4 separate regions of the Homo sapiens genome follow, and all the other regions are reported to be linked to region 1. The links are microRNA targets in miRTarBase. Many come from high-throughput screens and were not tested one by one. Region 1 holds a microRNA gene; each other region holds the end of a gene's coding sequence.
Evidence for each region. Region 1 holds the annotated microRNA hsa-miR-181c-5p (AACAUUCAACCUGUCGGUGAGU, at 2,295-2,316, opposite strand). A microRNA usually pairs through its seed, bases 2 to 8, with sites in the 3' UTR of a target mRNA and lowers its output. Matches are read on the target gene's strand: a 7mer-m8 pairs with bases 2 to 8, a 7mer-A1 pairs with bases 2 to 7 and ends in A, and an 8mer does both.

Region 2: the mRNA of NMT2 is a reported target of hsa-miR-181c-5p. Seed matches in the 3' UTR shown: 7mer-m8 at 1,654-1,660.
Region 3: the mRNA of ISCA1 is a reported target of hsa-miR-181c-5p. The part of its 3' UTR that is shown has no 7-base or 8-base seed match.
Region 4: miRTarBase lists HECW2 as a target of hsa-miR-181c-5p. Seed matches in the 3' UTR shown: 8mer at 1,463-1,470.

The regions. Positions count from the first base shown.
Region 1 is chr19:13,872,460-13,877,040 of GRCh38, reverse strand. MIR181C (microRNA 181c) reads right to left here and starts at 2,342; the gene lies at 2,233-2,342. It overlaps MIR181D (microRNA 181d), which reads right to left and starts at 2,166; the gene lies at 2,030-2,166. It also overlaps a transcript of NANOS3 not described here. RefSeq lists a silencer at 4,067-4,206.
Region 2 is chr10:15,105,679-15,109,678 of GRCh38, reverse strand. It overlaps NMT2 (N-myristoyltransferase 2), which reads left to right. Exons shown (of 12, transcript NM_004808.3): 12 at 464-3,909. The coding sequence ends at 484. Among named protein-coding and RNA genes, the nearest start is that of RPP38, 10 kb to the right of the region's middle.
Region 3 is chr9:86,262,415-86,266,414 of GRCh38, reverse strand. ISCA1 (iron-sulfur cluster assembly 1) reads left to right here. Exons shown (of 4, transcript NM_030940.4): 4 at 224-1,869. The coding sequence ends at 372. Among named protein-coding and RNA genes, the nearest start is that of C9orf153, 4.8 kb to the right of the region's middle.
Region 4 is chr2:196,197,768-196,201,767 of GRCh38, reverse strand. HECW2 (HECT, C2 and WW domain containing E3 ubiquitin protein ligase 2) reads left to right here. Exons shown (of 29, transcript NM_001348768.2): 29 at 380-4,000. The coding sequence ends at 491. Among named protein-coding and RNA genes, the nearest start is that of STK17B, 28 kb to the right of the region's middle.

The DNA.
Region 1 (4,581 bases):
CCTGGTGCCCCACTAATACTCCTCCTAAAGGGCTGTATGGCCTCTGGCTGTGCCGGGGGACTACAGGACACAGGGTGTGTGGGGGGGCATCCTGCGAGGTGCACCACAGCCCCCCGTACACACCTCCAGGGAATTGGGGGGCTACCCTGCCTCCCCTCCTTGTAGGAGTCCTTAGCCCTCCAGCCCCACTGGAGGATGGGGAGAATGGGTTGGAAACCCCACCCCCAAAGACTAGCAGTTACCAGTAACTTAAAGAAGTTAACTTAGTAACTTCTTTATAACTTTTTCTTCCTTCCCCTGGGCGGGGGAGTGGCCAGGTGCCCCTGGGTTCTTTGTGTGTGTGTGTGTCCAGGCGGGAGGTTGCTGATGCTCCAGCTGTCTCTGAAAGGAGTGTGGTAGTCCCAGGCTCATGGGCTGGTTGCGGGGGTAGGGGGGAAGGATCATGCCCCCCGGCCCCCAGCTCTGGTCTCCCTCCAAGAGTTTTCACATCGGTTGTCTTAGTGGAACCCCCATTGAATGGATGAGCAAACTGAGGTGTGAAGCCACCTGCCCATCCAGTTATTTATAAAGACATGCACCAGGCCAGGGAGTGGTGGCTCATGCCTGTCATCCCAACAGTTTGGGAGGCCAAGACAGGCGGATCACCTGAGGTCAAGAGTTCGAGACCAGCCTGGCTAACATGGTGAAACCCTGTCTCTACTAAAAATACACACACACACACACACACACACAAAATTAGCTGGGCATGGTGGCGGGTGCCTGTGATCCCAGCTACTCAGGAGGCTGAGGCAGAAGAATTGCTTGAACCCAGGAGGCAGAGGTTGCGGTGAGCCAAGATCAAGCCACTGCACTCCAGCCTGGGAAACAGAGTAAGACTCTGTCTCAAAACAACAACAACAAAAAGCACCACATCTGCCTCCTTCTTCTAGTTACTGGGGCCCCCTGAGGCTAGGTGCTGGGGAGGGAGCCCTTTCCTGGCGGGGGCTGCAGAGGGGTGAGAAAGAACCCTCTGGAGTTGGGAGGTGGGGGATAGCAAGTTGGGCTGTTAGGAGGGGACCCCTAGTACCTACAGGTCTTCAGTGTCCTCCCCGAGATGAGATCTCAGCTCAGTCCCAGGAGGGGAGGGTGTGCTCAGGACTTGGACACAGAGGAGAGACGCTGTGCCGCTTACACAGCTCATCCACCCATCCATTCATTTAAGAAACTTTTATTGGCCAGGCACTGTGGCTCATTTTGAGAGGCCGAGGAGGATTGCTTGAACCTAGGAGTTGGAGACCAGCCTGGGCAACGTTTTGAGACCCTGTTCCTACAAAAACACTTTTTCGAAATAAGCTAGGTGTGGTGGTGCGTGCCCGTGGTTCCGGCTACTGGGGAGGCTGAGGCGGGAGGATCAACGCTTGACTCCAGTTATTAGAGGCTGCAGTGAGCTAAGGTCACACCATTGCACTCCAGCCTGGGTGACAAGAGCGAGATCCTGTCTCTAATTTAAAAAACAAAACTATGGAGCACTCCACGGAGCAGAACTTACCACCCACATTTCAGAAAGGGGTTTTAGGCCAGGCAAAGTGGCTCATGCCTGTAATCCCAGCACTTTGGGAGGCCGAGGGGGGAGGATTACTTGAGGTCAGGAGTTTGAGACCAGCCTGGCCAACACAGTGAAATCTCGTCTCTACTAAAAATACAAAAATTAGCCCACTGTGGTGGCAGATGCCTGTAATCCCAGCTACTTGGGAGGCTGAGGCCAGAGAATCACTCAAACCCTGGAGGCAGAGGTTGCAGTGAGCTGAGATTGGGCCACTGCACTCCAGCCTAGGCAACAGAGTGAGACTCTGTCTTAAAAAAAAAAAAAAAAGGGGATTTTAGCTGCCCTGCCCCAGCCTGTTTACCCCCAACCCTCTAATATTTAGTCCCAAATCCAGCCAGAGCCCATCCAGATTCCAGACACCAGCTCTCCTCTCCAAAGAGGAGTGGTTGGGGTCAGGGCAAAAAACAGGCTGAGTGACTGTGGCGGTGGGGGGTCCTGTCCCCAGTCCCCATTCCCCTTAAGCCGTGTCTGGCCCAGCCACAGTGACATTCATCCCCCGGTGGGTCTGGCCTCAGTCCTCACAACCCACCGACAACAATGAATGTTGATTGTGACCTCGGCTGTGGCCTAGGGGAGGGGACGTGCCCAGGCTGGATTGGGGGCTCCCCAGGCCCCCCTAGATCTGGAAGGTCAGAGTCACCGGCAGGAGGATGGCAATTCCAGGCCTCAGGGTCCACTCAACGGTCGATGGTTTGCCTGAGCTGCCCAAACTCACCGACAGGTTGAATGTTCCCCCAAACCCTTGGCAAATTTTCCGGGACCTGGAGTCGGGGGTGGGGTAGGTGGCAGGGAACCAGAGAGCATGAAGAGGGAGAGGAGGAGAGAGTAAGGAACCCCTTTTCTCTCATGAAATAAACAAACGCTTTTCAGGTGCTGTTTGCACCTAGATCTGGGAAAAACACAAGGCAAATATAAATGCTAGTAAATAAAATGTAGCCTTTGCTATGGGGATGGAGATGTAGCAGTGCAGGGGAGTGCTGGCCTCAAGCCCGCTCCTTAAGTAATTCACAAAGTGATCCTGGAGGTGCAGATTACCCCCCTTTGTCAACTGGGGAGACTGAGGCCAAAGGCCACTGCTAGTCCGAGGTGGAGGAGGCATTCCAAGTGTTCCCGGGAAGTCTGGCAACGGAGGATCCTGGCCCCGAGGGCATTGATGCAACGTGGAGATAAACAAGCCATTTTAATACAATGTAATACGTTCTGGGAGCTTCACTGAGTTCCGGGCACGATGGTTTAGGAATCACAACAGCGTGAGTGGAGCGCTTGGGGGTGGGGGGTCGTCAGGTCTCTCCACTTTACAAGTGCACTGGGGCCCCACTAGACAGGGGAGAGGCAGGAGGTTCAGAGAGGGCGCCGCTCGCCCCGCGTGCGCGGTCACACAGCATCTGAACTCGGGCACTTCCGGAGGGAGTCCGCGCAGCCACGTGGGGGCTGCCCCTTGGGCCTCAAAACCGGCTGCGGCGCCCCCTCTCCATTTCCTCATCCCTCAAATGACCCCCAGTCCCTTCCTCCAGTGATCGCACAGAGTTCGGCGACCACCCCCCCGCCCCGGGTGCCCCCAGGCCTACAGGTACGCACCCCTATCTCCCACCCCCCGCAAGCCAAGCAGTGACGACCAGGGATGGGCGAGCGCGCCTTCGCCCCTGACCTGGGTCTGCGGACGGCCTAGGAAGGTGCACCCGGCATGGCCGGGTGCTGCGGCTCAGGCCTGTAATTCAGTATTTTGGGAGGCTGAGGCGGGAGGATCTTTTGAGCCCAGGAGATGGAGACCAACCTGAGCAACATAGCGAGATACCTGTCCCTACAAAAAAATTAGCTGGGTGTGGTGTAGTGAGCCTGTAGTCTTAGCTACTTAGGAGGCTGAGATGGGAGGATCGCTTGGACCCCAAGAGTTCGAGGCTCGAGGCTGCAGTGAGCCGTGATCGCGCCACTGTATTCCAGCCTGGGTCACAGGACGAGACCCCGTCGTCGCAAAAAAATAAGTAATTTCCTGGCCCCTGGCATTTCACCGAGGGGAATACTGAGGCCCAAAATAACCGCCTGGCATAACCCCAAGGTAGATGAGGGACCCCCAAGTGTGCCGAGCTGCGTGAACCACCCCCCCACCACACCCCTCACGGTGGTGGCAACGGAACCCGGCCGAGCCCCCGAGGACGCGCCCCCGAGAGCCCCGCCCCCGAGAGCCCCACCCACAGTCTGGAGCCACCAGCCAAGGCCCCAGCCCAGGCCCTGCCCCTTAGAGCCCCGTCGCTTTTGACCTGTTCCCCAGAACACACTCCCTCTAAAACCCGCCCATATAGACTCCCACGGAGCCCACCGCCAAACCCCTAAGCCAGTCCTCAAAGAGCCCAGCTCCCTTAGGGCCCGCCCCCTTAGAGCCCTCCACAAAAGCCTGCTCTATAGACGCCCCGGGACTGCGTCCTGCCCCCACGAAGCCCAACCCCCCACTAAGGTCCGCCCCGACCGGGCACGCCCCCAAACCGAATTTCGTAGGGCCCCTCAAGCCCGATCCCGGCTAACTCGCCCTCCCGAAGCCCCCCTCCCGCCTCCCGGCACCTTCTAGAGCCCTTTCCCCAGAGCCCGCCCTCTCACCCGCCCCGGGTCGGGGTCACGTTCCCACCCCTCTGTCTGGAGCTGGAGTGGGGCGCCCTCTCTCGCAGCTCATCCGCCACGTCCAGCAGATCCTCCCATTCAGGCTGTGGAGTGGGGGGGCCTGATCGGCTTCTCTTTATCCGCCACCTCCACCCCAGGTGTCCAGGCCCTTCCGAGGGAGGTGGCCGGTCCCCTGCCTTGTGGATCATCATTCTAAGGAGGAGAACGCCTAGGACTTGGGAAGGAGAGTGAGTTGGGAGCACAGGTGTTAATAATTACATTACTGATGATAACGCTACATTCATCACGCTGTGAGCAGGATATACCCATTTTGTGGACTGGGAAGGTAAGTGGCTCTGTTAGTCCAGAACTCTCAAGATTCCTCAAAAGCTTGGTTCTTGTCT
Region 2 (4,000 bases), not on the chromosome of region 1:
TGTAAACTCAACAAATGTACCTAGACAATTTCATACTTGCTTCACTTAGACTTAAGACAGCTTTATTTTATTTTTGTTCATTTTATTTATTTATTTATTTATTTTTTTGAGATGAAGTCTCGCTCTGTCCCCCAGGCTGGAGTGCAATGGCATGATCTCAGCTCACTGCAACCTCCGCCTCCCAGGTTCAAGTGATTCTCCTGCCTCAGCCTCCCGAGTAGCTGGGATTACATCCACCACCATGCCTGGCTAATTTTTTCATTTTTAGTAGAGATGGGGTTTGACCATGTTGGCCAGGCTGGTCTCAAACTCCTGACCTCAGGTGATCCGCCTGCCTTGGCCTCCCAAAGTGCCGGGATTACAGGTGTGAGCTGAGCCTTAAGACAGCTTTTAGAAAGACAGATCTATTGTACTACATTGCAATCTAATTTTTCTTACTATTCCATTTCTTCCCTCCCTTCAGGTTGGACTAGTACTACAATAGATGGATATTTTTATTTCTAGAACTCTGACATCATCATTTGTTAATATTTAATGATTTCTGGAACTGCCATTCCAAAGAAGAATAAAAGCACAACTCAAGTGAAATTGAAGTAGTCGATAATCAGAAAAGATGACAAAAGTCCACATGTGACATTTGTACGTTTCTAGCTAGAATGTTAAACTTCATCCTTTTTTTACTGTTGACCTATTTGTGGGAGGGATGAAAGGCTACAAAGAGCACATTCTTGTAATTTTCAAATTTTTGCCTGTCTCTTGAAGAGGTATTTTTTCACCCTTAGAAAAGGGACTGTTTTTCTATGGACTAAGTAGAAGTTACAGAGTCATGTAAGAAAATCTTTGCTATTGTGTGGAGAGAAATTGCTGCATTTCTGTTTCTTAAGTGATGGTACATTTGTCCATGTAACAGAACAAAAGATCCATTTGGAAATTTTTTTTACTGGTATCACCTTACATGGTATCACTGGGAACATTTATGGAATCAACACTTCTGTAGCTCAGTGACAGGTGGTGGTTGTTTAAGTGCAGAGCAATATTAAAATGTACTGGTGACTAGTACATGTATTTCTCCATAAGCAGAGTTGCCGAATCAATAAACATGCAAGTTTGTACTTTGATCTTTACCAGGTCAGTGGATTGCTTCAAAAGCAGAGTTTTGTGCAAGCACTCACTGTGCTCTCTGAAAGAGCCTGAGGCCGGGCGTGGTGGCTCACGCCTGTAATCCCAGCACTTTGGGAGGCCAAGGTGGGCAGATCATGAGGTCAGGAGATCGAGACCATTCTGGCCAACATAGTGAAACCCCATCTCTACTAAAAATACAAAAATTAGCCGGGCGTGGTGGCGTGTGCCTGTAGTCCCAGCTGCTTGGGAGGCTGAGGCAGGAGAATCGCTTGAACCTGAGAGGTGAGGTTGCAGTGAGCCGAGATCGAGCCACTGCACTCCAGCCTGGGTGACAGAGCGTGAGACTCCGTCTCAAAAAAAAAAAAAAAGAAAGAGCCTGTACCCGCGACTAACTAGACTTTTCTGCTGTTGTGCAAAGTTCAGTTTCTTCTCAGCAACATCAAGGATATATGAAGAAAAGGAAATAAAAAACTGTAAAGTCAAAAGAGATGCCTGGTGGAACTTATTCGTGCTATCAGGGCATTGATAGTTTGAATGTTTTTATTACTTATGCAAAATTGCACATACTCCTCTATGCTGATTTTATCATGAAAACTGTCATGTGTCATGCTAATGGAAAATGTCTTATTTGTAAATAAGTATTCATAATTTTGTTACTGATGGTGTTTTTAATCTAGAATTTGAAAAACTTTCATGGCTTACAGATGTGTGTTTATATTGCCAATAATCTGCGGGAAAAATAAGATGCTAACCGAGGCCACGTAGCCTGGCCTCAACTCAGATACCACAAAGTAGATGCCTTGGCTGGGTGTGGTGGCTCACGCCTGTAATCCCAGCACTTTGGGAGGCCAAGGCGGGCGAAACATTTGAGGTCAGGGGTTCGAGACCAGCCTGGCCAACATGGTGAAACCCCATCTCTACTAAAAATTCAAAAAGAACTAGCTGGGTGTGGTGGCGGGTGCCTGTAATCCCAGCTGCTAGGAGGCTGAGGCAGGAGAATCACTTGAACCCAGGAGGCGGAAGTTGCAGTGAGCCAAGATCGTGCCACTGCACTCCAGCCTGGGTGACAGTGCAAGACTCCGTCTCAAAAAACAAAAGTAGATACTTTTCCCTGCTTTTACTGGGCCAGTGCCTAGGAAGTTCAGTGCAGAAGTTAATTGTTTTAGACATGATGGCATTTCCTTCAAGTTATGAGTCCAGTGAAACCAATCATATCTTATCCCAGGCAGGGGCCACCAAACTATGGCCTGTGGGCTAAATCCAGCCCATTGCTTATTTTTGTGTAGCCCACAGGCTAAGAATGTTTTTATTTTCTGGAATGGTTGAGGAGAAAAAGCCAAAAAATGACATCATTTTGTGACATGTGCAAATTACACAAAATTCAAATTCCGGTGTCCCTCAATAAGGTTTTATTGGAACATAGCCATACTTTTTTTTTTTTTTTTTTTAGGACAGGGTCTCACTCTATTGTCCAGGCTAGAATACAGTGGCACAGTCAACAGCTCACTGCAGCCCCAAACTCCTGGGTTAAAATGATCCTCCTGCTTCAGCGTCTTTTTGAAGAAAAAGAACTAGCTGGGCGTGCATACCACCACGCCTGGCTAAGTTTTTCATTTTTTGTAGAGACAAGGTCTTGCTATGTTTCCCGTGCTGGTCTTTAACTCCTGGCCTCAAGTGATCCTTCTGCCTTGGCCTCCCAAAGTACTGGGATTATAGACATGAGCCACCACTCTTGGCCACAGCCACTTTCATTTACATATTGCCTATGGCTGCTTCACACTACAAAGCTGAGTTGAGTTGTTGTGACAGATTGTGTGGCCTGCAAAGCCTAAGATATTCACTCTCTGGTCTTTTACAGAAAGTTTGTTGACCTTGGTCACTACGAAGGAGTTGGAACTCTCCTTTCTATAGGTTGCCGTGATTCTAAAGACCAACCCACAGCTGTGACATCCCTGAGACTACCACCAGAGGGCGACTGGGCCCCACAGTAGTACATAATATAGGACCTCTCTTGGAGATAATGGAAGACTTGGAATTTCAGATGGTTCCACCCTAATTGCATTAGCGTTCTTTCTTAACAGGAGAAAGGCTTCAAGAAACAAAACAGTCCTCATTCACTGGAACAGGGTTTGAGATACCAGCATTAAGTAAATGAGATTTTGACTTAACCTGGAGTCAAGGCTCTAATTTAGGACTTTACTTCCCACTCATTTTCATGCCACAAAGTCTATACAAAGTAGGTTTTCAAATAATTGCAGAATCAGCCAGGCACGGTGGCTCACACCTGTAATCCCTGCACTTTGGGAGGCCAAGGTGAGCAGATCACTTGAGGTCAGGAGTCTTGAGACCAGCCTGGCCAACATGGTGAAGCCCTATCTCTACTAAAATTACAAAAACTAGCCGGACATGGGGGTGTGCACCTGTAATCCCAGCTATTCAGGAGGCTGAGGCAGGAGAATCGCTTGAACCCAGGAGGCGGGGTTGCAGTGAGCCGGGATCACACCACTGCACTCCAGCCTGGGCAACAGAGTGAGACTCTATCTCGAAAGTAAAATAAATAACTGCAGCATTGCCAGTTGGAAACTTTGTCATGAGCTTACCTCACGGTGACAGTTACACTGCTCCTTTAAAGAGTCATTTACATAATTTGTTATCAAATTATTAACCACTTTTAAATAGAATAATAACTACATTTGCCTCCATAATTGAAGCAGATTACTAATTAACATTTTCGAGAATTAAACTGCTTGCTTATGAAGTAGCTATTAAAACTAAATTGAAATGCAATGGATAGTTTCTTGTAGATTTAAAACTGCATTGTACTGTACTTTGTCTATAATGAAAATGTTCTATTCAATAAGGTATCTTTTTTTCTTCT
Region 3 (4,000 bases), not on the chromosome of region 1:
ATAAAATTCTCCCCTAATGTGATTGTGACATAAATTCATGTGTGGGAAAGAAGGGGCAGACAGGAAACTGAATGCTTAATTCCTTAAGGAAATAATTTAAAATGTTCAAGGCTTCTTGTTTGACTTTCATTGATAGTCACTATTTCAAGTTCACTTGTGCTTTGAATCAGCAAGTTCCATAAGGCTGCAGGCTTTCCATGACACATGTTTTCTTTTCTCCAAGGAGTCAGAGTATTCATCGAAAAGAAAGCACAGCTAACACTTTTAGGAACAGAAATGGACTATGTTGAAGACAAATTATCCAGTGAGTTTGTGTTCAATAACCCAAACATCAAAGGGACTTGTGGCTGTGGAGAAAGCTTTAATATTTGAAATCTCAGGACTCTTCTGGCCGTAGGTTCCAGGAAAGCTCGTGGAAGCTTTGGGGCTCACTGCAGAAATCATGTGACTGTCACGTGCTGGAAAATAAAGTGATACATCTTGAAAATGAATCCAGTGTGTTGGATTCCAGAAGAAATGATATTTATATTCTCTATAGGGGACAGAAAATGAGAAGCCATCACTCTTTTTGGATCATTTAGGTCTCTTGTATCCTTTGTTTTAGAACCAGTTTCATTAAAGTTGCCTTCCTGGGCACCTGTTTATCCATTTCCTGAACTGTGTGCACTCCTTAGATCGCTATTGATGGCTTGATCATCCCTCAGCATTTCTCCCAACCAGATCGGTGACTCCTAAAATCTGAGACAGGACATCGTGACTGCTGGTAGTAATATGGTGGTGCATTGTTTTTTCCACCCAAACTTAACATAGCCTTTTTATACATTTTTATGAAAAATTTCATTGTCAGCTGCCTCACTGCATACTCTTTAATAGTACCAGGCAAAGATTTTCTTCAACTATAGTACAGATTAGTTCTGAGTGATGGTATCAAAAGGTGAGAAAGACGTCATCCGCCTTTTTTTAATCCATTTCTTTTGCCACCCTATATGTCTGTTCAGAGATGGGCTCTCAAGCTGACTTTGATTCTTTTAGTTGAGAAGTCTCTTAAAGCCATCTAGCCCACCTCCATCAATTCCCTATGTGAGGAAGCAAAACCCCAGGGAAGCCAAAGGGCTCCTGTCCACCCTGACACCACAGGCCGGGGGAGAGTAGGGACTCTACCCCCCTCTCCCCTTGTAGGTGACACATGCTCTGCCCTCTGAGGCAGTCAGCGAAGGCAAATGGTCTGACTTCTTTATGTGGTCAACATTTTGATAGAATTTCTTTATAATTTGATAGAGATTATATTATTTTTATTTTATTTTGAGTGGGAAGAATTTTAAAACCTTTTTATGTCAATTACCATCTTGTTTCTTTCACCTTTGAAACAATGGTTTGTAGCAGAGATGACATTGTAGCAACCCAGAATTATGCTTTTGGAATGTGGTCCTCACTGTACAGGAGAATGTGTAATCTTTTGTTAAAATTCCCAGTGTGCATACATTTTCTGGTTCCTCGGTCCAGTTGCTAAAGTTCTTAGTATTTTAGCCTAACATATTTATCACCAACTTTTCTTTAAAAGTGTTCCTTTTGTCACTTAGTTACTGATTTTCCTGGGTTTGACATAAGTATTCTATGAGATGATATATATGCTTTTTTTGAAAGCTGATTCTCATGAATTCAAGTAGCTGAGTTCCTTTATGTTTCGTTTATTCACTAAAGTAGCTGACACAAAACACACCAAAACCTAGAGCGGTAGTTTTATGTAAATGCTCATGAGTTTGTATCAATAATATAATTGTTGATCCACTTATAATTCGTGCAACACTGTATGTATGTAGAGATTGAGTTGTCAATTAAAAAAAATGTGGCCTCTTTGTGATCATAAAATTGCCTTTTATTATTGAGGGGAGAGGGTTTGGGACAGCAGCTGCTAAAGCCAATAAAAAAATGACTGTCTTTTTTGCCTAGGCTGCCTGTCACCAGGCGTCCTCCCTACCTGACACTGTTTCGTCCAGAGTCCTAGCTGCTGATTCTCCACACAGCCCTGGAGAGACCATCTCAGGTGTCTCTCATCTCCCTGGCTTTGCTAGCCTCTTTTTCCTCCTTGTTCCCCATGAGGGTCATCCATCCCCCAAGCAGGTTCCTCATGTCCTTAGGACGAGAGCATTATCACTACCTGGAGTGCTTTTCCCTCTGTCATCTGAGCTTTTATGTGAACCTCCTCCAAGAAGGTTCTCAGCTGTTCACTCAGGCACAGTAGTGAGCACTGACTCTCCACTAGCCCTGAGCTTTCACAGGTCATCAAAGACAGTCCCAACCTCAGAGAGCTTCAAGTCGGCAAATGAGACACCAGCGAAGAGCATCGATCACCATGGTAAGTGTTGTGAGCAGCTGGTGGTGATGGCATGCTCACTGCATGCCAGGAAGTGTTCTAATAAACATCATCTCAGCAATCGAGAATGCAGGTCTGACTACTGTCTTTTTCATAGATAAACCAAAACACAGCTTAAATAAAATAGCTAAGGTGGCCAAGTCAGAATCGTACCCTGTGTCTATGGCTCCAGATGCTGTGCTCCCAGCTGTTAGGCCATACTGCGTGTCCTGATAGAACCAACGGAGTGCGCTTCTAAAAAGGTAGCCTACAGGTTATGACCCCTGCGCCTAGTTGAAAGAGATTTGGGGAAGAGGGAAGACAGTGAACAGTACTAAAGAGGGTTGAAAAAACACAGAGGGCGTGTTCTCACTCATAGGTGGGAATTGAACAATGAGAACACTTGGACACAGGGCAGGGAACATCACACACCAGGGCCTGTCGTGGGGGAGGGATAGCATTAGGAGATATACCTAATGTAAATGACGAGTTAATGGGTGCAGCACACCAACACGGCACATGTATACATAAGTAACAAACCTGCACGTTGTGCACATGTACCCTAGAACTTAAAGTATAATAAAAAGTAATAATAAAAACACAGTGAAGCTAAGCACTCCGGAGAATGAGGCCCGGAGAGGAGCAGTAAGGCTGGAGGGCAAGGTAGATGCCTGGGGCGTTTGGGCTTTCTGCAAGTTCTGTAGGCCTTGGGGCCACTGAAAGTGTTTAGGGGCACTCATTAGAAAATTGCATTTGGAAGTGTTTCCATGGCCTGGACTAGGCTGGCTGATGAGGACAGGAAGAAGCTACTGCAAAGCCCGCTATAATAGGACCTGAGCAGGGACCCGTGAGAGAAAGGCTTAGGAGGCAGAAAGGATGGTACTCTATCCGTAGCCCAACCTCATCAGCCAGTGTTCTGTGACTCATTTCTATTTGTACAGGCAGTACTTGTACTGTTCATTGGTTTTGGTTCTTGTCTCTTGTACAATATTGAAAGGATCTTGGAGACAGGAACGCAATTGCTTCTTCAGTGTTCGTTTAGCATCGGGCAGGTCAGAATTATTTTTGCAAAATGGCTCCATCCTACGGCCATGTCACACCATGTCATGCAAGCCTTAGCCCTCACCAGGAAGGTTCTGTCTGTTGCACCACATTCATCCACATTCTACTCACAAACACTGGTCATTGTGTTAGGCGATTTGGTAGTGCCCCTGGGTGATGTGTAGGCCAGCAGATCTGTCGCTTAGCAGCAGACTTCAGGCTTTTCATGATCAGTTATAAGCCCACTCTTCCACATCAGGATGCTAAATTGAATGAATCAGGCCATGAGGACAGAGGCCTGCTGTGCTTCATTGTTGCAGGGCGCCTCCCAGCCCTCTGTCACCGGACCCACCAGAATGATTTTTTTTTTCTCAAACAGGAAAGGGTTGGGAACAATCCCTACAAGATCAGATGTCCCTAAGATTTCCAGTATTTCCTAGGTTTCACTCAGCAGGAAATACCTCAAAAAAAAAATGGCCTTTCTTGTCATGTTTTGATACCTGAGAAATCAGGAAATGGAAAAGCCTGTGCTAAGCTGAGCTGTAAGCAACATCAGTGTCTCATTTGAGCCTTAGAGCAGACGTGGCATGGGCCAGACACAGCATC
Region 4 (4,000 bases), not on the chromosome of region 1:
ACTACTTTGCAAGGCCTTATGTCCGTGTATTAAAAAAAAAATCTAGCATCAAAAGAGAAACAAAAACCAAACTTGTCTTTGTAATCCTTAGACCACTCAATAAATGGTCATTTATATGTAATATAGCTTTTAAATGGTGGTGAAATGTAAATAAAATATTTTTTTAAATATCCTCTTTTCCTTAGAGAAATTCAGTTCTGAATTTTTAAGGTCAAAATGTTTTCAAAGATTTTTCAAAAGGAGTGTGAAAATTGGCAACAAATAAATTTGAATGTGAAAGACAGTCATACACACACAGACACACACACACACACACACCACACACATTTTCATTTCACTCGGCCTGTTCTAAACTATGTGCTGTTTCTTGTGTTTTCAGAGCGCATACATGTTTTAACCGTCTGGATCTGCCTCCCTACCCATCCTTTTCCATGCTTTATGAAAAACTGTTGACAGCAGTTGAAGAAACCAGTACTTTTGGACTTGAGTGACCTGGAAGCTGAATGCCCATCTCTGTGGACAGGCAGGTTCAGAAGCTGCCTTCTAGAAGAATGATTGAACATTGGAAGTTTCAAGAGGATGCTTCCTTTAGGATAAAGCTATGTGCTGTTGTTTTCCAGGAACAAGTGCTCTGTCACATTTGGGGACTGGAGATGAGTCCTCTTGGAAGGATTTGGGTGAGCTTGATGCCCAGGGAACAACCCAACCGTCTTTCAATCAACAGTTCTTGACTGCCAAACTTTTTCCATTTGTTATGTTCCAAGACAAAGATGAACCCATACATGATCAGCTCCACGGTAATTTTTAGGGACTCAGGAGAATCTTGAAACTTACCCTTGAACGTGGTTCAAGCCAAACTGGCAGCATTTGGCCCAATCTCCAAATTAGAGCAAGTTAAATAATATAATAAAAGTAAATATATTTCCTGAAAGTACATTCATTTAAGCCCTAAGTTATAACAGAATATTCATTTCTTGCTTATGAGTGCCTGCATGGTGTGCACCATAGGTTTCCGCTTTCATGGGACATGAGTGAAAATGAAACCAAGTCAATATGAGGTACCTTTACAGATTTGCAATAAGATGGTCTGTGACAATGTATATGCAAGTGGTATGTGTGTAATTATGGCTAAAGACAAACCATTATTCAGTGAATTACTAATGACAGATTTTATGCTTTATAATGCATGAAAACAATTTTAAAATAACTAGCAATTAATCACAGCATATCAGGAAAAAGTACACAGTGAGTTCTGTTTATTTTTTGTAGGTTCATTATGTTTATGTTCTTTAAGATGTATATAAGAACCTACCTATCATGCTGTATGTATCACTCATTCCATTTTCATGTTCCATGCATACTCGGGCATCATGCTAATATGTATCCTTTTAAGCACTCTCAAGGAAACAAAAGGGCCTTTTATTTTTATAAAGGTAAAAAAAATTCCCCAAATATTTTGCACTGAATGTACCAAAGGTGAAGGGACATTACAATATGACTAACAGCAACTCCATCACTTGAGAAGTATAATAGAAAATAGCTTCTAAATCAAACTTCCTTCACAGTGCCGTGTCTACCACTACAAGGACTGTGCATCTAAGTAATAATTTTTTAAGATTCACTATATGTGATAGTATGATATGCATTTATTTAAAATGCATTAGACTCTCTTCCATCCATCAAATACTTTACAGGATGGCATTTAATACAGATATTTCGTATTTCCCCCACTGCTTTTTATTTGTACAGCATCATTAAACACTAAGCTCAGTTAAGGAGCCATCAGCAACACTGAAGAGATCAGTAGTAAGAATTCCATTTTCCCTCATCAGTGAAGACACCACAAATTGAAACTCAGAACTATATTTCTAAGCCTGCATTTTCACTGATGCATAATTTTCTTATTAATATTAAGAGACAGTTTTTCTATGGCATCTCCAAAACTGCATGACATCACTAGTCTTACTTCTGCTTAATTTTATGAGAAGGTATTCTTCATTTTAATTGCTTTTGGGATTACTCCACATCTTTGTTTATTTCTTGACTAATCAGATTTTCAATAGAGTGAAGTTAAATTGGGGGTCATAAAAGCATTGGATTGACATATGGTTTGCCAGCCTATGGGTTTACAGGCATTGCCCAAACATTTCTTTGAGATCTATATTTATAAGCAGCCATGGAATTCCTATTATGGGATGTTGGCAATCTTACATTTTATAGAGGTCATATGCATAGTTTTCATAGGTGTTTTGTAAGAACTGATTGCTCTCCTGTGAGTTAAGCTATGTTTACTACTGGGACCCTCAAGAGGAATACCACTTATGTTACACTCCTGCACTAAAGGCACGTACTGCAGTGTGAAGAAATGTTCTGAAAAAGGGTTATAGAAATCTGGAAATAAGAAAGGAAGAGCTCTCTGTATTCTATAATTGGAAGAGAAAAAAAGAAAAACTTTTAACTGGAAATGTTAGTTTGTACTTATTGATCATGAATACAAGTATATATTTAATTTTGCAAACTTTTCACTTGTTTGTATTCTTTTCATTATAAGGAAAAGTAGTATAACACACTTTTTTTTAAGTCACATATTTGATGGTATACAAGATGTTTCAGGGCTGGCATTCTCCAAGCAGCAGATAAAGGTTGCATTTCTTTCAAAAATACATTCAAAGACCATGTTATCCTTCATTTTGGTTTGAGACATTTAGTTATGGTATTTCATATTATTAGGTAAAAGATATTTGAAATAAAATGTATCTCTTTAATTATTTCTAACAAATATATTTCTTTATTAAGGCATCCAACTTTTTCCCAAATAACAGTACACTTTAATGTATGTAGACATTCTTAATTAGTATAATCATCTAGTTGATACTGTTCTCAGATTGGGAATTATCAAAGATGTACTTATCATATCAGAACACCATGCTAACTTATCTATTATTCTTTCTTAGTAAAACAAAACAGCCAGTAATAACTATATAAAATATTAAATAACATTTCCACAGAATAAATTAGACTTTCATGTACTCTACAATTAGAAATATCCATAAATATTTTCTTCTGGACTGTGAACCCAGATAACTAGGCTTTCTGGTCTTATTTTAAGTGATGCTCTTTATACTATAGAAGACACTCTTAATACATCATATATGTATGCAGAACATCTCTTAGATGAGAGAACAAGCACATCATTGGCATTCCCTCTGTGCCAGTTTGATGTTTGTTTGACGATGGAGCTACAAGAGTCTAAATCTGCCTTTGAAAAGCTCAGCTCACAGTGTAGTAGAGTAGACTCCAAGGTTCAAAAAAGTGTTTTTAATAAAATTTGGTAAGTTCTACAATCAAGGAATGAAGAGAGAAGAGAACAGCTTTTTCCATCTGGGAGATTCAATAATGGCTTCATATATAGATGATAGTGTGGCTAAAAAAAATTACATCAATGCTGTTTCTATTGGGAAGCAATGGCAAGTAATAGTATGTCAATACTGGTCAAGTGTTGAAGCCAGGATGCACTTACACAACGAGAGTGTAAAGTGTGTAGGGAGCTGATCTGTGAAGGAGCAACTCAAAGATTTTGAAATTATCAGTGAAATGCCAAAACAGGGAAAGTTTCCCTGTTTCCCTTCATCTATTCTACAATGCACCATTGGTTTTCAGTGTGAAAAATCCCAATCCCTGAGCCCAAACCACTTCTGGGGTCAAAACATTTTTCTTGTGCACAAAATGAATGGATCTTGGTCAAAGAAGTATGGTCACAATTTTCTAGCATATATTGCGTTTATAATTTAGCAGAAATTCTGCAATAAATAAAGGAAAATCTGTTTTACCTGTGCAACAATCAGAAATGGTAAAAATGCATTCAAGTGTTTGAAAGAAATGGTAGAATATGCTTGCATAGTGCTTTATAGTTTCAAAGTGCTGTCAGGTACATCGTCCGTTTAGCTCCTCACGCACTTTGTAGGGTACAAGCATCATGTTCCATCTGGGTTGTGGCTGA